3 linked regions of the Homo sapiens genome follow. The protein of the gene in region 3 purifies or fractionates together with the protein of the main gene of each other region. This does not show direct contact. Each region holds a gene or a part of one and is shown on either strand. Other genes may lie near its edges. The genes, in order: TCEA1, ACAD11 and DUSP19.

Region 1 (7,791 bases), on a different chromosome or scaffold from region 3:
ATTATGACACGTTATTATAAGTAATGTTTAATTATTTGCTGTTTAAAGATCTCTCCTAATCTTAAAATTCTATAAATTCTTCCTATTTAGTCATCTAGAAACAGTAAAACATTAAAGTTGTTGGAAAAGAAATCTAACACTGACTTAAAACGTATTATTAAACAAGCATTTCTACAGGTATGACATTGTTGTGAGTAAATGAAGTCTTCGATCCCTTATCTGCAAATTTCCAGACCAAAAACCTTTGAAAAGCAAAAGATTTCTAGATTTCTCATAGGTAAACTCATTTGGCAGCTAAACCTAACCACAACACATGTAAAGCTATTTGTGCTCTATGCCACGTAATGTGACTATTACAACTGACTACAGAAATGTTAAGGCCGGGCGCAGTGGCTCACACCTGTAATCCCAACACTTTGGGAGGCCGAGGTGGATGGATCACGAGGTCAGGAGTTCAAGACCACCCTAACCAAGATAGTGAAACCCTGTCTCTACTAAAAATACAAAAATTAGCTGGGCGTGGTGGCGGGTGCCTGTAATCCCAGCTACTCAGGAGACTGAGGCAGAGAGCTGCTTGAACCCAGGAAGTGGAGGTTGCAGTGAGCCGAGATCGCGCCACTGCACTCCAGCCTGGGCGACAGAGCGAGACTCCGTCTCAAAAAAACAAAAAACAAAACAAAAAAAAGAAATGTTAATGTCTGGTTGCTGAAGTGCCCAAATCCTGCTGGGGGTATTATGTAATATATGATGTATATACCAAATTATCTTTATCAAATCTGAAAAATCTGGAATTACCAAATATATCAGACCCTAAGGGTTTTGATTAACAAACTCTAGAAGTCTGGACAACACAGCATGACCCCCTCTCTACAAAAAATAAAGATAAAAAATTAGCTGGCCATAGTGCCTGTAGTCCTAGCTACTCCAGAAGCTGAGGCGGGAGGACTGCTCGAGCCCAGAAGCTTGAGATTACATGAACCATGATCGTGCCACGGCAGTCTAGCCTGTGTGGACAGAGTGAGACTCCATTTCTAAAATAAAAATTAAAAAACGACGACGACAAAAAAAAAAAAAAAAAAAAAAGATTGTGGGCCTGTATTCTCCATTTACCATTGACATTTTTCTTCTATCCACATTTCCAGGATTTCTGATCCACTTCTGACCAAGAATCTCTTAATAAGGGTAAAGAATCACACTTCTAGAAGTTCCTTAAAAAGCAGGGTTTCCTAAGTATTAAGTTGATTCTTCCAACATATCAGCAATGAGACATACAGTTTAAATTGTTTTCCAAGTAGAGGCAATATATTTGCATTAATTTTGTTACTTTCCTTTTCTACTCAGCTCTCTGGTGAGGCCATGGTTGGAATAAAAAGCTAAAAGTAACACTCACGGAATAAAACTATGACCTTTCTGAAAACTGCACTGTGTTCCAACTAATTCAAATAAATATTTCACTGAAGGGTCTTTAAGAAATAACTATGGGCTGGGCACGGTGGCTTATGCATGTGGCTCACACCTGTAATCCTAGCACTTTGGGAGACCGAGGTGGGAGGATCAACCTGAGCTCAGGAGTTCGAGACCAGCCTGGCCAACATGGTGAAACTCCATCTCTACTAAAAATACAAAAATTAGCGGGGCGTGGTGGCGGGCACCTGTAATCCCACAGCTACTCAGGAGGCTGAGGCAGGAGAATCACTTGAACCCAGGAGGCGGAGGTTGCAGTGAGCCGAGATCGTGCCACTGCACTCCAACCTGGACGATAGAGCAAAACTCCATCTCAAAAAAAAAAAAAAAAAAAAAACAAAAAACAGACAAACAAAAAGAAATAACTATGATGATCTGAATGAGTGAAATGCAAAACAGATAATCATACATTAATTCGGTGACAACAAACTTTGAGTGCTGCTATGTGCTTGGCATTGTTAAATACTTCACATAGATTTAATTCCACCTTCACCATAAACCCTATAGAAGCAGGTATTATCTCCATTTTACAGATGAGGAAATATGTCAAGAAACTTGCACAAGGTTCTATGATTACTAACTAGAAAAGGTAAGATCTACTCCAGTAATGTCAAATGTACCAAGCTCTACTGTACTGGGGATACAGCAGTGAGCAAGACTGAAACCCTTTCTGACATCAGGGAATTTTAAAACAAACAGAAATCTTTAATCATCTATTTCAAACCCTTAACTACACACAAAAAAAAGAAACTTAAACCCAGAAAAGAAAAGTGACTTGCCCAAGGTCATACTGACGGGTAGTAAGGTCATGAACTAGTCGCCTGACCCTTATACTGCTGCCCTTTCCCCAGCAGTGCGCCAGTGGCAGCACTCCTTTGTGAATTCAGATGACTAGTATCACCAAACAAGAAGCTGTATTTTAGCCTTCCCCAAGCATCACCTAGCTCTAAATGTCAAGCCTAGGCCAGGCACAATGGCTCAGCCTGTAATCCCAGCACTCTGGGAGGCCTAAGGCAGGAGGATCACTTGAGCCCAGGGGTTCGAGACCAGCCTGGATAACAGAATGAGATCCCACCTCTATTTAAAAAAAAAGAAAAGAAAAGAATACATGTCCAAGTCTATGAGATTGTAGCATCTCCTACAGATGATGCAAGAGAAAGAAAGACTCTTCTTTAATTTCCAGAGCCAAATTTAGTTCACACTACTGGCTGAAAGATAAACTACAGCTATCACACTATTTTATTACATTGTTGGTGCTCCTATCTGGTAATAGAAAACAAGTGATTTTATAAACCATGATACTTGTACTATGTGCTCAGTATACTCAAGACCATGTAGGATACGAACATCCCTCTCCTCAAGGAGATGTAAAAAGGAGGGAGTAATAGGGATTTATAGTTAAGAATATGGTGTACATATATGACAGATTTAGATTCAAATCCATGCTCTGACATTTGCTAACTACAAGATCTGGGTAATGTTATTTGTCCTTTTCAAGCTTCAGCTTCTTTATACGTAGGTGAGCATAACACACCAACCTTGAGTAGTTAAAACAGCCAAATGAGGCAACATTACACAGATAAAGTATCAAAATAGAGGGTCTGACACATAGCATGGTTGATGAGGAGTACAAAAATATACAAATAATTACTTATTTCTACCATAACAATAATCTCCAGGGGCCATAAGCCAGCATTTTCAGTGATCATATTTAAGCTCAATCAAGTAAAACAGTTACTTCTTCTATAATAATGTCTTCTTCATAGGCATTATTATAAGATTTCAAGGTTAAAGAATTAAGATATTATCCATTTTTTTTTTTTTGAGACAGTCTCACTGTGTCGCCCAGGCTGGAGTGCAGTGGCGTGATCTCAGTTCGCTGCAACCTCTACCTCCTGGGTTCAAGCGATTATCCTGCCTCAGCCTCCCAAGCAGCTGGGACTACAGGCGCCCACCACCACGCCCAACTAATTTTTGTATTTTCAGTAGAGATGGGGTTTCACTATGTTAGCCAGGCTGGTCTTGAACTCCTGACCTCGTGATCTGCCCACCTCAGCCTCCCAAAGTGCTGGGATTACAGGTGTGACCCACCATGCCTGGCCCATTATCTATTTTCTTAAACAATGAATTATAGATATTTGAGTTGTAGCTCAATAACATCACTATAAAGCTAGGACTTATGATATTACTATGTCATCTCAAATTTGCAGTTAAACTACACCAAAAGCACAAGCAACAAAAGAAAAATATATATAAATTCATCTTCATCAAAATTAGAATATTTTATACTTCAAAGGCCACAACCAAGAGCAGACAGACAACCCACAGAATGGGAGACAGTATCAGCATATCTAACAAGGTTCTAGTATTCAGAATATAAAGAACTCTTACAACTCAATAATAAAAAGACAACCCAATTTAAAAATGGACTAATCCAATTTGTACTCCAGCCTGGGCAACATAGCCAGACCCTGACTCTTTTCTAAAAAATGGGCAAAGGATCTGAATAGACATTTATTTCTCCATAGAAGATATGCAAATGGCCACAAAGCAATGAAAAGATGCTCAACATTGTTAATCACAAGGGACATGCAAATCAAACCCACAATGAAATACCACTTTACACCCACTAGGAAGGCTATAATCAAGACAAATGATATTGGTGAAAATGAGGTGAAACTGGAATCCTCACACACTGCTAGTTGGAATGTAAAATGGTGCAGCCACACTGGAAAGGTCTGGCAGTTCCTCAAAAGGTTAAACATAGTTACTATATGACCCAGTAATTATTCTCCGAGGTATACACCCAACAGAAATGAAAACATATGTCGCCAGGCGCGGTGGCTCACGCCTGTAATCCCGGCACTTTAGGAGGCCGAGGCGGGCAGATCATGAAGTCAGGAGATCGAGACCATCCTGGCTAATACAGTGAAACCCAGTCTCTACTAAAAATACAATAGCCGGGCATGGTGCTGGGTGCCTGTAGCCCCAGCTACTCGGGAGGCTGAGGCAGGAGAATGGTGGGAACCCGGGAGGCGGAGCTTACAGTGAGCCATCACACCACTGCACTCCAGCCGGGGTGACAGAGCGAGACACTTGTACAGCAATGTTTTTAACAGTATTATTCACAACAGCCAAAAAGCTGAAACAGCCCAAATGTCCACCAAATGATGAATGAATAAGCAAATCGTGGTTGGGTGCAGTGGCTCACATCTGTAATCCCAGCACTTTGGGAGGCTGAAGCGGGTAGATCACCTGAGATCAGGAGTTCTAGACCAGCTTGGCCGACATGGTGAAACCCTGTCTCTACTAAAAATACAAAAATCAGGCCAGGCGGTGTGGCTCACGCGTGGAAATCCCAGCACTTTGGGAGGCCAAGACAGGCGGATTATGAGGTCAGGAGTTTGAGACCGGCCTGGCCAATATGGTGAAACCCCATCTCTACTAAAAATACAAAAATTAGCCGGGTGTGGTGGTGCGCGCCTATAGTCCCAGCTACTCGGGAGGCTGAGACAGGAGAACTGCTTGAACCTGGGAGGCGGAGGTTGCAGTGAGCCGAGATCGCGCCACTGCACTCCAGCCTGAGCGACAGAGCAAGATGAGACTCCGTCTCAAAAAAAAAAAAAAAAAAAAAAGACTATACTAAGCAAAAGAGGCCAGTTACAAAAGACCACATACTGTATAATTTCACTGACAGAAAATTTCCAGATTTGGCAAACACACAGACAGAAAGTATATTAGTGGCTGTCAGAGGCGTGTGAGAAATTGGTGGGGGCAAATGAGGGCTGAATGAGGAGTGACTGCTTAATAGGTACAGGGTTTCTTTTTGGAGTGATGAAAATGTTCTAAAATTATACAGTAGTAATAGTTGCACAAACCCGTAAATACACTAAAAGCCACTGAATTAACAGTTGACCCTCAAATAACATGGGTTTAAACTGCACAGATTCACCTGAGAATTTTCTTTCACCTCTGCAACCCTAGATGACAAAACCAACTCTTCCTTTCTCCTCAGCTTATTCAATGTGAAGACAAAGAGGATGAAGACCTTTACGACGACACATTTCCACTTCATGAACAGTAAACATATTTTCTCTCCTTTATTTCTTTTCTTTTCTTTTTTGAGACATTGTCTCGCTCTGTCACCCAGGCTAAGTGCCTATAATCCCAACATTTTGGGAGGCCAAGGCAGGCAGATCACTTGAGTTCAGGAGTTCTAGATCAGCCTGGGCAATATGGTGAAACCCCATCTCTATAAAAAATACCCAAAAAAGGCTGGGCTCAGTGGCTCACGCCTGTAATCCCAGCAATTTGGGAGGCCGAGGCAGGTGAATCACTTGAGGTCAGGATGTGGAGACCAGCCTGAGAAAAATGGTAAAATCCCATCTCTACTAAAAATACAAAATTAGTTGGGTGTGGTGGCACGCACTTGTAGTCCCAGCTACTCGGGAAGCTGAGGTGGGAGAGCTGCTTAAACCCAGGAGGCGGAGGTTGCAGTGAGCCAAGATCATGCCACCACACTCCAGCCTGAGTGACATGACTGCATGAGTTATACTACTACAAAAGTTATACTACTTGACTGCATGCGGGTAGGGAGGGGGGATAGTGTGAGCACCACAACCCTTGCATTGTTCAAGAGTCAACTACACTTTAAGAATGAATTTAATTCTATTTCTCGATAAAGCTGTTATTAAAAATTGTATAGTCATTCTAAATTTTGAATTATGCTAATTAATCTAACTCTGATATAGATATCAAAGTTTTGTTGCAGTTGTTATTTTAACTGAGGTACTTGGAAATGTAAATCAATATTTCAGGTATCCCAGCTCCTACGAAATTCTAACATCTAATTTCAATTTCTCTCCCTGCAATTTAATTCCACTCAACCTTGAGCCTTCAATGAAATAAATAAATAAACCTCAGCACTACCCACAAAATCTCTCCATGAACTTCAAAACTTTATGTCCTTGCCTCACTCCTCCTTCTATAATCTAAATGAATCCTTTACAAAGAAAGGCAACCTCAGATTGTTTTTTAGGCCTTATTACATCCTTTAGGCCCACAATCCTACACTAGAAGCATTTTATATTCACTTAATCCTTACTAAATTATCTCCAGTTTACCATGACGAGAAACATTTTAGTGATGACAAAGAACTTGCCTAAAATCACACAGCTAAAGTTCAGAAAAGTTCAGAAAAGCCAGGATTTGAACCCACATTAGCAGTCAGACTTGGTTACTGACACCGAATCAAAGTGACAAGAAAACAGCTTAAGCAGAAAACAGCTAATACCTAAAAATTTCGAACTACTTTCTGTGGTTCACTGTGGCTTGGTCATGTGCACTTGAGATCAAGTACACATGTGGGACAACATCTTGGGTAGAACTAGGGTCAGGATATTGATCTAGGTAACTAGGGAAACACACCTGCCCCAAAACAGCAAGTTCATACTCTTACTTCCTGATTTTGTATTCACTTAATTGTATCCATGCATGGTTCAAGAGCAGATGCAAGGGTCTTCTAGAGAGACACTGTAGCTTAAGAGAGGAGTACTAGCTTTGGAGCAAAACAGATTTAGATTCACATCTTCACTTGGCCATTCACTAGCTATTTGGCTTAAGACTATTCTAAATACTTAGCATCCTCATTTTCAGAATGAGGATAATACTCATCTTGCAAAGTTGCCTGAGGAATAAATGGGATAAGGTGGGTAAGTATTTAGCAGAATACCTGGCTCAGAGTAATAGCTCAATAAATGGTAAGCTGTTTTTAGTTAAGTGTGACACCTATGGTTTTAGTAAAACAAAATTATTCAGGTAAAGCAGCAGCATGTTAAAATATTTTTTTAAATGATATCTAAATTTGCACTTAAATTTGTCAATTCTGATGACAACTATTACTCTTCAAAGTTAACTTTTTCAGGCTGGGCGCAGTGGCTCACATCTGTAATCCCAGCACTCTGGGAGGCCAGGACGGGCAGATCACCTGAGATCAGGAGTTCAAGACCAGCCTGGCCAATACGTTGAAATCCCATCTCTACTAAAAATACGAAAATTAGCCAGGCATGGTGGTGCACACCTGTAGTCCCAGCTTCTAGGGAGGCTGAGGCAAGAGAATCGCTTGAACTGGGGAGGCGGAGGTTGCAGTGAGCCGAGATTGCACCACTGCACTCTAGCCTGGGTAACAGAGTGACACTGTCTCAAAAAAAAAAAAAAAAAGTTAACTTTTTCATAATATAAAACATTAAAAAAGCTGAGAGAAAAATCTGAAAACTACCGAAAAAAAGAGAAACACATATACCATAATTCTACAACCCCTAAAACACA
Region 2 (7,791 bases), on a different chromosome or scaffold from region 3:
GGATATGAAGAATCAATATCATTAAAATGACTATACTGCCTGGGGCAATTTATAGATTTAATGCTATTCCTATCAAGCTACCAATGACACTCTTCAAAGAACTAGGAAAAACTATTTTAAAATTTATATGGAACCAAGAAAGAGCCCAAATAGCCAAGGCACTCCTAAACAAAAAGAACAAAGCTGGAGGCATAATGTTACTTGACTTCAAACTATACTACAAGGCTACAGTAACCAAAACAGCATGGTACTGTTACAAAAACAGGTACATAGACCAATGTAACAGAGAGCCCAGAAATGGGGCCACATACCTACAACCATCTGATCATTGACAAAGGTGACAAAAACAAGCAATGGAGAAAGGACTCCCTTATTCAATAAATGGTGCTGGGATAACTTGCTAGCCATCTGCAGGGGATTGAAACTGCGCACCTTCCTTACATCTTAGCCATTTTTTTGACGTTTAATTGTCCTTTTATTTTCCTTTCTTTTCTTCTTTATTATTTTAAGTTCCGGGATACAAGTGCAAAATGTGTAGGTTTGTTACATAGGTATACAGGTGCCATGGTGGTTTGCTACACTTATCTACACGTCATCTAGGTTGTAAGCCCTGCATGCATTAGCTATTTGTCCTAATGCTCTCCCTCTCCTTGCCCCCACCCTCCAACTGGCCCCGGTGTGTGTTGTTCCCCTCCCCATGTCCATGTGTTCTTATTGTTCATCTCCCCACTTATGAGTGAGAACATGCACACCTTGGCCATTTTTATGCTTGGTCATGTTTGCCCTTCAACAGGGGATATTTGATTAGAGTTTCCCTAAAGCGGTGATGTTCAACATGATAGCTACTAACCATATGTGGCTAATGAGCATTTGAAACATACCTAGTCTGAACTGAGATGTACTATAAGTATAAAATATGCACCCCATATTGAAGAATAAATATTAAAATATAAAGTATCTCATTAATAATTTTTATATTGATTTCATGTTGAAATAGTATTTTTGATATATTGGGTTAAATAAAATATATTATTAAAATTAATTCCATCTTTTTCTTTTCACTTTTTAAAAATGTTGCTATTAGAACATTTAAAATAACATTTAAGGTTCATAGTATATTTCTTTTGGATGGCACTGCCCTAGAGGTTGAAACATGGCTCTGAATTAATTTCAAACAAGTTGCTGGTGGTGAATAAATATTTTTTGATGGCTGTAAAACAGGATAATTACAACTTTATAACTTCATGAACAGACTTAGAAGACATTTACTTCTCAGCTTTAGAATAAAGGAGGTATTCTCAGTTGGGTCTCTATAGACCCTAGATTTGCTGAAAAGCATTAAATGGGTAGAAACTAGGTGCTCTAGGGAACTGCCAAATATATTTCCTAAGACAGAACTGGGATGGAGAATTTTTTGCGTTACAGCCTGGAGTAAATTAGAAGGCAGCTGGAAGGAGCCTCCAAATTCAAAGAAATGAAATGTTCCTTTCACAAATTAAAATAAAAAAGCTGGCCCAGATTTTTGCTTATGACATGCTCACACATCTTTTTGTTTCTGCCAGATCACGTTATTTGTGCCAGATGTGAAAAGTTTCCAGTGAAAACAGGCATATTTGTTAAAAAGCCAGGCTTGCTCTGCATGACACATTAACTTTAAAAGGTGGAAGGGAAATTTTTTACTAATGCAGTATTAAAACACCACTCAGGAAAGCAGCACTTGCACAGAGGGCTTTTGTGCATTCGCGATGCTTGTTTGTCGACTTTACTGTGTCCTCCCTTCACCCTGCTCCAGAGTTTGCATGCAAGCTTGACAAAAGGGTAAGAAGTAATGGTTGGTGCCCTGAGCACCTCTTCATCCTTCTTCAACAGCATCAGAGGCTGTATCCAGGGCCCCAGAGGGTCACACTTTCTCACCTCCTCCCACAGTGCCCAGCCAACAGCTGAACTTTGCTGTATACTAAAAACTTGCCTTCGCTGTATACTAAAAGGGCTCCTGACAAATTATTCCCAGGTGTAGTGTCATAAAGCGGGCTGTAGCTTTTCAGTTAAAAAACTATACAAATAAATCATATAATGCTGAATAATACTTTACAAAAAGCAAACATAGATTATAATAATTTAAGGTAAAAAATACATACTGCAAATTTCATAAGATGGTCAAAAATGTATAAGGAGACCGACATACTAAAATATACATGTGCAGCAAACACAAATACAATTCCATCACCACAGATTTGACCTAACACTAACATGTTAGCAATAATAAAGAGTGAACATTTAATAATAGTTTTTCTTGCCTTCTTAAAACTTAGAAGGGAGATGATGTGGATATCCTACTTCTCTGTAGAAGACTTTTTAAGGAAGTCTGAAATAATACCTTCTATTTCATCTCAATACATATTTCCTAATTTTTTTTCTTTTTCTGGAGACAGAGTCTCGCTCTGTCGCCAGGCTGGAGTGCAGTGGCACGATCTTGGCTGAACGCAACCTCTGTCTCCCGGGTTCAAGCAATACTCCTGCCTCAGCCTCCCCAGTAGCTGGGACTACAGGTGCACATCGCCATGCCTGGTTAATTTTTTTTGTTTTTTTTTGTATTTTAGTAGAGACGGGGTTTCACCATGTTGCCCAGGCTGGTCTTGAACTCCTGAGCTCAGGCAACCCACCCGCCTCGGTCTCCCAAAGTGCTGGGATTACAGGTGTGAGCCACTGCGCCTGGCCATATTTCCTAATTTTTATTATATGGGCCACATGTAACTATGTTTACAGTGATTTGTAACAACAGACTCAGTAGTATATAATTTACAGATGATAATTCAAAAAGTCATGAATATCTCACAAAATGTTGGTCCCATTTCTACTTGTGTTTCTCCAGTGACAGAATTCAAGTCCTCCTGAAGAAGCTGATTCCACTTTTAGGTTTATTAGCATGTTTCTCCTTTCCCTGAGTTTTGGGCTGTTTTCCTGTAACTTTACACTTATGTGTCCTAATTCCTTCTAGGAAACCAATGGACAAGGCAAATCCTTCTTCCTTATGACAGCTCCTTCATGTCCACAGGGAGCTCTAATGTTCCAGGTTCTCTAAAGAACAAGAATCTGAGAAAGTTGAAGGAACTGTCTACACTCTTGTGTGCAGAGGTGTTGAAGCATTTTAGGAACTATTTAATTTTTCATAAAGATAAATACCTCTCATTAGACTATATTTAAATACAGACATAAATATGCCTTATTGAAAAGAATCACCCGGTTCATGTAGAGAAAGTCTGTCTCTCACAAGTAATGTTTTTGTTCAATGTTAGTGTAGTGCACCGGGCTACAATAAATTCAAATAAGTAATCGTCCTCACATGTGCATACAACTTCTTCTTGAAAGCTATCCTTTGTGTTGCCCGCTCACACATGATCTGCAAAGCGCGTTCCGCCAAACCTACTGTTCTCATACAGTGGTGGATTCTGCCAGGTCCAAGGCGGCCTTGGGAAATTTCAAATCCCCTACCTTCACCTGGGAAGAAAGGGGAAAAAAAGGGGGAATGTGAAAATGGCCTAGCCCATTCCTTTTGTTATTTATACAAATCCTGGGAAAGAGATGAGCTGCCCTTAATAAAAATGGCTTTCTAGTGAAAAAAAGTCAGTTCTATAATAAGGTTCACTATGAATTCATGGGAATTTTGATTTCTATGTTTTTAAAACCACCACCATTAAACATTTCAAATTTCAGAACTGTCTCTTAAGTATGTACTATGCATAAGCTATTTTATTAATGCTGCAATAGATACAAAGTTGGAATAACACATAGTCCCTGTACTAGGAGTTTAGAATCCAGAAGAGTGGGTAAGGGTAAGAGATACAGAGAGAAACAAAGGCAAAGGAAGAAGAGATTTTCTGTTCATCATTATAACCTCAGGGCCTGGCAGGTATCAGGGGCCTGGTGAATGGATGGGATGAACACAAAAACATTCCTGGAAGAGGTGGTATTCTAGATGTTCTTTGAAAGGGATATAGTATTCTAATAAGCAAGAGGATGGCATACAGTGTTCAAAGTTATTTATGCTTCTAACTTATATCTAATACTTGAATTCATAAAGTACTGAGGTTTTCTTAAAACAAATAGAGGCCTACAGATCATGTTCTAGGAGAAAGTGTATTGCTCTGAATTATATAATTTTCATATTATCTTTTCAATTGATGTGATATAGAAAACCACATCCAACACTTAAATAAAACCTCACCATTCCATGTAAGAAAATCCGCCAAACAGAAAACTTTCCCTTGACAAATGGAGTAAACAAGAAGGGAAAGTATTAGGTTGGTGCAAAAGTAATTGCGGCTTTTGCCAAAAACTGCAATTACCTTGGTGCAAAAGTAATTGCAGTTCAAAAACCGCAATAACTTTTGCACGAACCTAATATCTAAATCAAGGTAGACTTCAGGTCTAAATCTGGAAAGACTTATCTTTTCCAGATTTAGAGCTGAAATATTAATGTACAATACTGAAGAATCATTTCCAAATTCAACTCACCTAGTATTAGATTTGTGGCAGGAACTCGCACTTGATTAAAATGGATCTCAAAATGTCCTCCATGAAAATTATCTATAAAATAGAAAATAAAATTTAGAGCAAAAGGAGTTGACTAAAAAAGAGTCACATATTCTTAATCTGCTGAAATATAATTACTTGAAGAAAATAGGATTTCAAAGATCCATATGGCATGAACATTCTGAGGTAAGCCTCAGCCCTGAACCCCAGGACCCAGCAGCCCAGAAAACTCATCAACTGTTCAAGAAGAGAAACCCTTTGATCCAGATGTTTTCTAATTCATTCTCTGAAGTACAATTTCAGAGAGCTAGGAAAAAGGAAGACCAGGCTCCATAGATCCAGCCAGAGTATTTTATTTGTTTTATTATTGCTGCTTCTTTGAAATATTTTACATATGGGGTTCCAAACAATTTGCATGGAAAAAAGTTTCAATGTTTCAAAAATTAAAAATGAGTAATGTAATCCATGTTTCTTATTTTATCATTGTGGAAACCAACGCCTAAAGATGACAGGGGCCTGCTTGAGGGGAAAGAGCAGGCTTGGCATTAGTGATGATACAGAAACTAGACCTTCAGGTAGGTTTACTCCCAGTCTAGACTTGTTCCACTGTGTGTTCGTCTCTTGAAAATACTGGCATTTGAAACACTGAGGCCAGGAACACGTTCACATTTTATCTTTGCATCACCCCTTCTCCCTGCCAAGTTTTAGAGATAATCTCATGCTAACTCTACACCCTTTTCCTGTCAGAGGAGACAATAATCAGCCTTCTCCACACTGTTTCTTTTGGCCCTGGACACAGGGAGTTGGAGAGGTGCTAGTAAAGTTTTCATACTGAATAATCAAATGTAGCCTCTGCAATGGAAATTATTTGCAGCTCAACTATATTATAAACGCATTTTTGGTATCTTTGCGGCCGTTTCGCTGCAACCCAACAATTTCCTACATGCAATTTTCTCCAGCAAGCTTGCTCATCCCATCTTGCCACCTATGCTTACCCTGTGGGTATACTCTACAGCTGCATCTTAACTGATAAGTGATTCTATAAAACTGCAAGTCTTATATCTGCCACTTGAACATATTCATTAGTCATATTCAATGATAAAAAGAAAGCCAGGGGCTGGGCCCGGTGGCTCATACCTATAATCCCAGCACTTTGGGAGGCCGAGGAGGGTGGATTACCTGAGGTCAGGAGTTCGAGACCAGCCTGGCCAACATGGTGAAAGCCCGTCTCTACTAAAAATACAAAAATTAGCTGGGCATGGTGGCTAAGCAAATACTTGCTGAGAGGGTGATCTTAGCAAATATTTATTGTACACAATGAACACGTGCCACAGTAGGTGGCAGGAAACAAATGGATCTTTGCTTCTTAGAAGTCCCACCCAAGGGCAGAGGAAGGAAAATTTTGCACTCAAATAAGTCAAAAACTCATTGCTTTTTAACAGTTCTTGTAAGTTGATTGATTAAGAGGGCTAAAATTGGAGATAAAAATAATTTTATTGTGGATTATCTGTGCATTAATCCATTTTTATGAATGACAGAGAAAAGACTGGTAGTGTTGCTCTTCCTTAAATACAATCTGCCCTTTCCCAAAAAGGCAGAATTTATATTCTATAAATTCTATAATTTATATAATTATAAATTACATAAATGCTATACTATTTCTTTTTATTGGCTCTACTCTGAACTCCACCAGCATTTATATTAAGACAGTTGTCACAGACAAAGGAATATCTAAGAATCTATCTTATGCATTAAAATGCTATTGCCTTCAATGTTACTGCATATTCTAGCCTTCCTGCTTGCTAATGCATGGTCATATTTATTGGATACCTACCTGTGTAGCCAAAAACTGACAAAGGCCTTATTATTTTTACTCCAGGTGTGTTCATGGGAACAAGAATCATGCTGTGCTGTTTGTGTCTAGTCAAAAGAAAAATTGTATTAGAAAAAGTTTGCTAAGAAGAAAAATAAAACAGATAATAAGCAGAATCACAATTGTCTTTTTGATGTTTTCATGTAGTCATGTAAGCAGTGATGACTGGAATGGGAACTGTGTAAAAGACGTACACCAACATAGTCTGATGCAGGCTGTGATCTGGAACAGAAACAATGATTTGAAAATAAATGAGTTGTTTGATTGAAGCTTCTCACTGCTCAACAATGGTAACTGGGAACTTATATATATAATTAAACATTTCAAGATTATTGCCTTTGATCTAAACATCTAATCACTTCATTACACAGGTCTGAAAAAATTTGTCTGATAATTTAATCCAAACAGCTTTGATAATTTAGCAACACTTTCTAATACTGAAAATTCCACAGCGAAGAATGTTCAGCAATACTCCCTATAATGTTTTCCAAAAACACCTGTTAGAAAATACTTGTGAAATACAAATATATGACATTTACTCTCATATCTTACATTATGATTTGTGAGTCCAAACAGTGAATTTTAAGTAAATTACCTAGATAGGAGGAAGACTGGCTCATTCCTACACAGGTTTCTCAATCAGAATTGTTTAATTACCTGGAGAGAGAAGTATTTTGAGTTCTTCCCAAAACAATTGCAATTTTGCACTTGGGATTCCCAGCTCCTAAAACCAAGGGGAACACAAGCAGATTATAAAAGGAAATTTCTAGTTTGACATTTCACCTTGAAGGTTCTAATCCTTCCCACTTTACCTATGTCAGAAAACAAATAGAGAGAACATTCCTGATTCATTAAGATAATAATTCTTTTGTAACACTCTATATCATCCAAGAAAAATGATTAGGCAAGGCCAAGAATGGACCCCATCAATGAAAGCTGCTACACAAAAATAACCAGAAGTCAAAGCAGCATGAAAGAACTGCCACCTCTCCCATTTACACCATTTCAGACATCAGCATGCTAGAAAAGCTGAGAAATTTTATATGTCTAATATAATATTTTATATGTCAACGTATATGAGGCTGTGATCCCACTTTCAATAAGCCTGGTTCTTTTATTAATTTCTTAAGGGTCAAATTTTAAAAATATTTTTTCATTTTAATGCAAAATTTTATTTTATCACAGTTCAGGGGTCTGTGGCAATTGCCTACAAGGGTCTTTTTGCAAAAATTACTTTTAATGTTTACTAGTAAGTCTAGTCCCTTGGGAAAACTACCATTTGACTAGATTTTCAATTACAAGGCTGCACACAACTGGATCAGATTAAGTTAAACACATCTGTACAAAGTCTCAAACAAATGATCGGATTCTTTTTTCTGATTTAT
Region 3 (7,791 bases):
AAATTCCAAGCTTATTAGAATATTCAATCTCTTGCTTTTCTTTCTAGATATGATTAACCTCTCTAATTTTTACTTGCAACATTTACATCTCTTCTAATGTTAATATGAATATGGATGATATCTATACTTTGCCATCTCTGGCATATTCTACATCTCCTTAGAGAAGGAGCCAATACAGAAACATCCTTTTTATTTTTAAAACTATTAACTCACACACTGGAATGTTACAATCCAGAGCCTGTAAATTTTTTAACAAGAAAACAGAATGGCCAATATTAGGCTTTGAATTAAAAAACCTCTCCCTTGGCCAGGTGCAGTGGCTCATGCCTGTAATCCTAGCACTTTGGGAGGCTGAGGCAGGTGGTCTGCCTGAGCTCAGGAGTTCAAGACCAGCCTGGGCAACACGGTGAAACCCTGTCTCTACTAAAATACAAAAAATTACCCGGGTGTGGCAGTGTGCTCCTATAGTCCCAACTACCTGGGAGGCTGAGGCAGGAGAATCACTTGAACCCGAGAGGCGGAGGTTGCAGTGAGCCGGAGGTTACAGTGCACCGAGATCACACTACTGCACTCCAGCCTGGCGACAGAGTGAGACTGCATCTCAAAAAAAAAAAAAACAAAAAAAAAAAACACAAAAAACAAAAAACAAAAAAAACCTCTTCCTTTGCTTCCATCCAAATACAGTCGTGCATCATTTAACAATGGTGATGCATTCTGAGAAATGTGTTGTTAGGCAGTTTCTTCGTGGTGTAAACATCACAGAGTGCACTCACACAAACCTAGAATGGTATGGCCTATTGCTCCAAGACTACAAACCTGTTCAGATGTTACTGTACTGACTTGTAGGCAACAGTAACACAATGGTATGTATTTGTGTATCTAAACATACATAAACATAGAAAAGGTATGGTAAAAATACATTATTATAATCTTATGGAACCACCATCATATATGCAGTCCAAACATCATTATGCAGTGCATGACTGTATCTGCTATTAAGTAAAGTTGATGAACAGTAGAATTGAATAGTTTTATATTTTCTGGGTAGTCTAGTAGGAAGGCACGTAGAACAGTGCTGGGCACCTAAGGCATTCAATAAATATTACTAAATGAAAGGAAAGAAGGGAGAGAGGAAGAGAAAATGGGAAGGAGAAAAGATAAAGGGAGAGAAGGTAGGCCAGAGTTCAATTAAACCTGATTGTAATCCTGTCATTGTTAGGTGTTCCAGAAGAGTTATTTCTCTCTGTAAATGCTTCTACTTTCCCATCTACGTATCTTACATAAAGTCTGTAAGAATTATTTGCTGACTAAAAATGATGACATTTCAAGGAATAATTGTTGATAACAGCCAACCTAGAAACTTTGCCTGTCAGAATGTTGACTTCAATAACAAGCCTGAAGTACTATATGACATTGGCTATTGGTCTTCTAACTTCAGAAAACCAACAGACAGTTTCTGATCAGCATTTTCATACAATCTAAGTAAAGCAATACACATTTAGTCCTTAGAGTGCCTTAAAATTTTACTGCTAAAAATGCATAGTTTCACAATAACTATCTCATTCATTAAAATCAAATGCATATTAATCATCATAAATACACTAACAAGTCTAGAGCAGTCTCTGTTTTATAGTCTGAATTAATGTTGAAACTAAACATCTCATTGAAAAAAGAGCAATTAACCAAATAATTGTAGGAAATAATGAAATATTGTTAGAAGGGAAATTTCATAATTGTTTTTTAGAGATTCATTATAAAAATAATAAAGATTGGGTAATGGATCCACACTTTCAAATTTCTGCTTCTGCAGAACTATGGATCAAAACAAAACTCACTTTTCTTTTTGCTTCTTCAATAAATTCAAAACATTCTGGAAAATAAGACAGGATGTTGGTTTCAGGCAGATCCAATATAGAAATGCTCTTATATGTAAAGTCACTGAGGAAAGCATTTTCAACTCCATATGCAACATTAAGAATATGAGTCACCTTAAAGAGAAAGAAAAAAGATGATTGTTTTAAATCCCATGAATTAGGTTACCTAAAAAGAGACTGGGGTGTTGATATCTATAACAAGAAAGGTAAAAAATTTAAATGCGACTCACTTGAATGATAATACTGCTTCAATCCCACACCAGAAGTGCTCCTTCTACTATATGTTTTCTCTCTCTCTCTCTCTCTTTTAACTTATTATTATCATCATGCAGAGACAGGGTCTCTTTCTGTCACCCAGGCTGGAGTGCAATGATGCAATCATAGGCCACTGCAATCTTGAACTCCTAGGCTCAGGTGATCCTCCTGCCTCAGCCTCCCAAGTAGCTGGGACTACAGGCGTGTACCACCACACCCAGCTAATTTTTTTTTTTTTTTTTTTTTTCAGAGAAGAGGGGGGCGGGTCTCACTTTTTTTGCCCAGGCTGGTCTCGAACTCCTGGCCTCAAGTGATGCTCCCACTTCCGCCTCCCACAGTGCTGGCATTACAGGTATAAGCCACCACACCTGGCCTATATATTTTCATAGCCCTGGACTTGCCCTATTATAGCTCATGCCATTTAGAGATTGTTTTTCTCTTTCACTGCACTAGAAACTCCATGAGGGTAGGGACCATGTTTAACTTAGTGTTATAAGCGAATGAGCAGTGAGTTTAGCAGAAAATGCTTAAAATCTTTGTTGAATTAATCTGTGAATATCCATATAAAAACTTAAATAGGAGAAGTGTATCAGTGGTATACAACTTCCCTTTCAAGAATTATTTCCCTATTTTCCTTCATATTCTTTACTTTATAAAATGGTTCTCCAGGATGACTGCACATTAGAGTCACCTGATGAACTCTTAAAAACTATCAATAACACAGGGTCTCATACCCAGAGATTCTGATGAACCAATCTGGCTGAAAAGTAAGGGGAGGTGTGGTTGTAAAATATTTTCTTTCAGATGGTACACTTGAGCAACCTCCTCCTCTTGCATCTATGTATTTGAGCCCCTTTTCCTAGAGTCCACCAACCATGTGGAAGAAAGCCAGGCAGACAGTCCATTAAGATAATCCAAAGGCTGAGAATCACTTGAACCCAGGAGGTAAAGGTTGCAGTGAGCCACGATCATGCCACTGCACTCCAGCCTGAGCAAATGAGCGAGACTCTGCCTCAAAAAAAAAAAAAAAAAAAAAAAAAAAAAAAAAAAACCTAACAACCTTGTCCACATCTGTACTTCCCCTCTGCCTTCTGATTACAATGAAGGATGTGCTCGTGCATCTTCGATAAGGCTCATTCCAGAACCTGTGCTTGGAGTCACAGTGCTTCCTACTTTCTTGGCATCTCCCTATAGTCATAATTCTTGCTTTTCTGTATCTTCAATTCCTTCTTCTACCATCAGCCTTAAAACATGCTCAAAGCTCTCCCCTCCCCCTCCTCACCTATGGCTCCTCTCTCTCTTTTTTTTTTTCCCTTTGCCATCACTTCCTCACTTCTCAATCTTTTGCAATATGGCTTTGGCCTCCAATTCAAATGAAACTGTTTCCACCAAACGCACTAACAACCTCTCTGTCACCAAGTCCCATGGATATAATTTAGTCCTAATCGTACTTAAACTTTTACAGCATCTGACATTGCTGACTCTCTCCTCCTTAAAACACTATTCTCTTTAGTTTCCATGACACCATCTTTTTGTTTTACCTTCTTTGGGCCTCTTTTAGATCCTCCTTTCCCACTGCGGACTCTTCTTTGTTTGATCATTCCATATAGGGTGATATTCCTCAATTTATCAGTTCTGTGATAAGATTCTGTCATAGGCCCTCTTCTCTCTTACTTTACACTTTTCCCCAGGCAGCTTCATCTATTCTAATGGTTTCAGTAACTACTTAAAAGCTGAAGATTCCTAAATCTATATATTCACCTCTATTCTGAACTTCAGACCCTACATATCCACCCACCTAGATGATCCACATCACCCAAAACCTAACATGTTCAGAACTGAGCACACTGTTTCTCCTTCAAAGCCTGTTCCTTCTACGTTGCTTTCAATCTCATGGAACGATAACTTTACTTAGTTACCAAAGAAAGCTAGACATCAGCCTTGACTCCTCCTTCTCCCTTAGCCCCACTCCCTATCCTGCCTCATAAGTAATCAAATTTTAAGAATTCTACCCTCTAAAAAACCCCTCACATCTATCTAATTCTATCTCCACTAAATCTTAATCTCAGCCATTATCATCTTTTCCTTAGATTACTGCAATAGCTTTATAACCAGTTTCCCCCATCTCTAACTTGAGCAACCCTCCAATCGATTTTCCACACTGCTTCTAATGAGAAATCTTTCTGAACTGCAAATTTGACCTTGTTACATCTCTGGGTAACTTCTCAGTGGCTTTCCATAGTCTTTTGGATCAAGTCCACACAACTAACTTTGGCTTACATGGCCTTTTGTGATCTGGCTCATGCTTACCTCTCTCTCTGGCCTTGTCTCTTGGTGCCCTTCTTTCTCACACTCTCTATTCCAGGGTCACTGAACTTTTCTGTCCCTGAAAGCATCCACCTTTCTCTTGCTTCTGGGCCTTCACACATATCATTTATTCTGTATGAACACTTTACTTTCTTTTTTTTTTTTGAGATAGAGTCTTGCTTTGTCGCCCAGTCTGGAGTACAGTAGCAAAATCATAGCACACTGTAACCTCGAACTCCTGGGGTCAACCAATCCTCCTGCCTTGGCCTCCCAAAGCCTTGGGATTACAGGCTGTCTACTCCTTTCCTAGCCTCTTCAGAGAAATACTTCAATATCACTTCCTCCAGGAAGTCTCCCCTGACTCACTTATCCCCCCAAAAACAAACCAAACCAAACATGGGTTAAGAGCATCATCTCCTATGCACTTCTACAGCACCCTGCACTTCCCCATCAAAGCACACAAACGCTGTTCGGTAGCTGCTTGTCTCTCTTCTCTGTCTGCCCCTTAGGTCATACGCTTCAAGTGAACAAGAATCTCTTGCACTCCTTCACCTACAGCAATTCCATGACCTGAAACAGTACTCAAAAAAATGGTAGAGGGCTAAAAATCCTTTTGAGTAAATATGTAATAAATCACATCAGTTGTATGGAGTAGAGTGGCTGGAAATGGCATTACAGAAGACGTGGTATGTGAGTTGGGACTTAAGGTATGGACAGGTCTTGGACAAGCAGAGATGAGGGAAAGTCTATCCCACACAGAGGAACTACATAAACACAGGCAAGAAAGACATGCCTCCAAGGTCAGGTTCATGAGGGTACATGAAGGAGATCAAGAAGAATGTAAAACTGGAAAGACAGATTACAGATCCACATATTTGAATTATGTGCCAATTATTTTTCAACTCTATTGAAATGATAGCCAAAATGTTACCAAATAAACTCCATAATATACCAAAGATGGACCAATACAGTTTTTCCTAAATAAAACAATTAAAATATTCTGTGTATATGGTGCCAGACTTAAAGCATTTTTTTACCTTATTCTTTTTCAGTGTATCCAAATCATGAGCAGCATCTTGTGACCCTAGAAGAAATAAATGATACCACCTTGAACACAAATATAATCATCTTGAACTTTTATATAAATTTCTACAGCAATTCTGTTATTAAAAAAAAAAGACCAACAACTTGGAAGGACCTTAGTCCAACTTTCTGAAGGGCAATTTGATAACAGTCATCCTACATAAACTCCTGGACTCTGAAATCCTACTTCTAAAAATTTGTCCTAAAAGTTATAGATGTTGCAAAGATTAGCTGTAAGGATGTTCACCATAGTATTGTTTGTAATATAAACAAAACAAAAACAAAAGAACACTAAAAGCCCAATAATAGCTGTTGCATTAAATAAAAAATGGTATAATTGTGTAGTGAAATACATACAGCCATTACCACCATTAGAAATAAGAAATGTAAGCCTGAACAACATTGTGAGACCCTGTCTATAGAAAAAAAATTTTTTTTAATTAGCCAGGCATGGTAGTGCATGCTTGTATTCCCAGGTATTCAGAAGGCTAAGGCAGGAGGATCCCTTGAACCTAGGAATTCGGGGTTACAGTAAGCTATGGTTATGCCACTGCACTCCAGCCTCGGTGACACAGCCAGAAGAAAGAAAACAAAAGAAAAGAAAAGATAAGAAAAGAAAAGACAAGACAAGACAAGAGAAGAGAGAGGGAGGGAGGGAGGGAGGGAGGGAGGAAGGAAGGAACGAACGAACGAACGAACAAAAGGGAAGGGAAAGAGAGGGAGAGAGAGAGAAAGAGAGAAAGAAGAAATGTGGTAAAATATGTATAGCATGGAAACATGTTCTTGGCCAGGAGTGGTGGCTCCTGTCTGTAATCCCAGCACTTTGGGAGGCTGAGGTGGGTGGATCACTTGAGGTCAGGAGTTTGAGACAAGCCTGGCCAACATGGCACAACCCCATCTCTACTAAAAATACAAAAATTAGCTGGGCATGGTGGTGCATGCCTGTAATCCCAGCTACTCAGGAGGCTGAGGCACGAGACTTGCTTAAACCTGGGAGGCAGAGGTTGCAGTGAGCCAAGATCGTGCCACTGCACTCCAGCCTAGGTGACAGAGTGAGACTCCGTCTCAAAAAAAAAAAAAAAAAAAAAAGAAAAATGTTCTCAATGTATCTGGTTATAAAAGCAGGTTACAAAATACCATCATCCATTTTTATAACAACAAAAAATATGTATATGCTTAAAAAATGGAAAGGAGGTATACATAGAACAAAATGTTAACAATGGGGTTGCAGGTGATTTTTTTTTCTTCTTTATGCTCATTCTGACTTTTTACAATAAACATCTCTTTATTTTGTAACTTAAAAAAGGATATTACAAAAACCACACACCCACAAGATGACTTTGTGCCAGCTGGTTTGGGAACACCCAGTAGCTTAGAGCAAATGCTGTTGGTCTGCAGGATCCCACCCACACTCCATGTATCACTAGGGCTGTGCCCTTCTACAATCTCTTTCTGTCACAGCCGGCTTCCCAGATCTCCCACACTTGGAAACTGGCTCTAGTTAATAAGCAAGTTCATATGGAGAATAACTAGTCAAAATAAAGTGAGTTTCACAGTTTAAAGATTTCAAGTATTTTACTTTCCTGAATTAGGTTCTATTTCATAAACTTTTTTTTTTTTTAAGTTACCCATCTGGGAATTCAGCCAACTTTTATTATGTGATTTTAGGTGGCTGAAAGGCCAGCAAGTATGCTGTTTGGCCAATATCCTCTTGATAATACCAAGCTTACAGGTTCGCTACTGAGCTCACATTCAGCTTTATTATACTTAAAAGTTAGCCTATCAAAATATTAACATTTGTTAAAGCTGAATGGTATATACATAATTGTCTATTAGTTTCTGTAATTTTCTATAAATTTGAAATACTTCATAATTTTTTTTAAAATTCTGTTTTCTAATGTAGAAAGCCCTAACCAACTCCAGAGGAAAAAATAGGTTCAAATAATTGAAATTTGGTGGTTTAGTCAGGCGTGGTGGCTCATGCCTGTAATCCCAGAAATTTGGGAGGCCAAGGCGGGCAGACTGCTCAAGCCCAGGAGTTCAAGACCAGCTTGGGCAACATGGTAAAACCGCATCTCTACAAAAAGTACAAAAAAATTAGCCAGGCATGGTGGTGTGCACCTGTATTCCCAGCTATTCAGAGGCTGAGGTGGGACGATCGCTGGAGCCTGGAAGGCAGAGGTTGCAGTGAGCCAAGATCGTGCCACTGCACTCCACCCTGGATTTATTTTGAGACCCTATCTCAAAATAAATAAATAAATAATAAATAATT

The links.
Region 1: the proteins of DUSP19 (region 3) and TCEA1 purify together in Homo sapiens (affinity purification with mass spectrometry; 2 studies listed by BioGRID and IntAct, with this or other methods). This does not show direct contact.
Region 2: the proteins of DUSP19 (region 3) and ACAD11 purify together in Homo sapiens (affinity purification with mass spectrometry; 3 studies listed by BioGRID and IntAct, with this or other methods). This does not show direct contact.

The regions. Positions count from the first base shown.
Region 1 is NC_000008.11:54,011,902-54,019,692, forward strand, and holds part of TCEA1 (transcription elongation factor A protein 1), read right to left. Parts: intron 1-7,791.
Region 2 is NC_000003.12:132,572,429-132,580,219, forward strand, and holds part of ACAD11 (acyl-CoA dehydrogenase family member 11), read right to left. Parts: intron 7,131-7,791; coding exon 7,064-7,130; exon of another isoform or gene 6,454-7,063; coding exon 6,368-6,453; intron 4,588-6,367; coding exon 4,516-4,587; intron 3,499-4,515; coding exon 3,344-3,498; intron 1-3,343. UniProt on the Homo sapiens protein: Acyl-CoA dehydrogenase, that exhibits maximal activity towards saturated C22-CoA.
Region 3 is NC_000002.12:183,081,237-183,089,027, reverse strand, and holds part of DUSP19 (dual specificity protein phosphatase 19), read right to left. Parts: intron 5,521-7,791; coding exon 5,474-5,520; intron 1,989-5,473; coding exon 1,836-1,988; intron 1-1,835.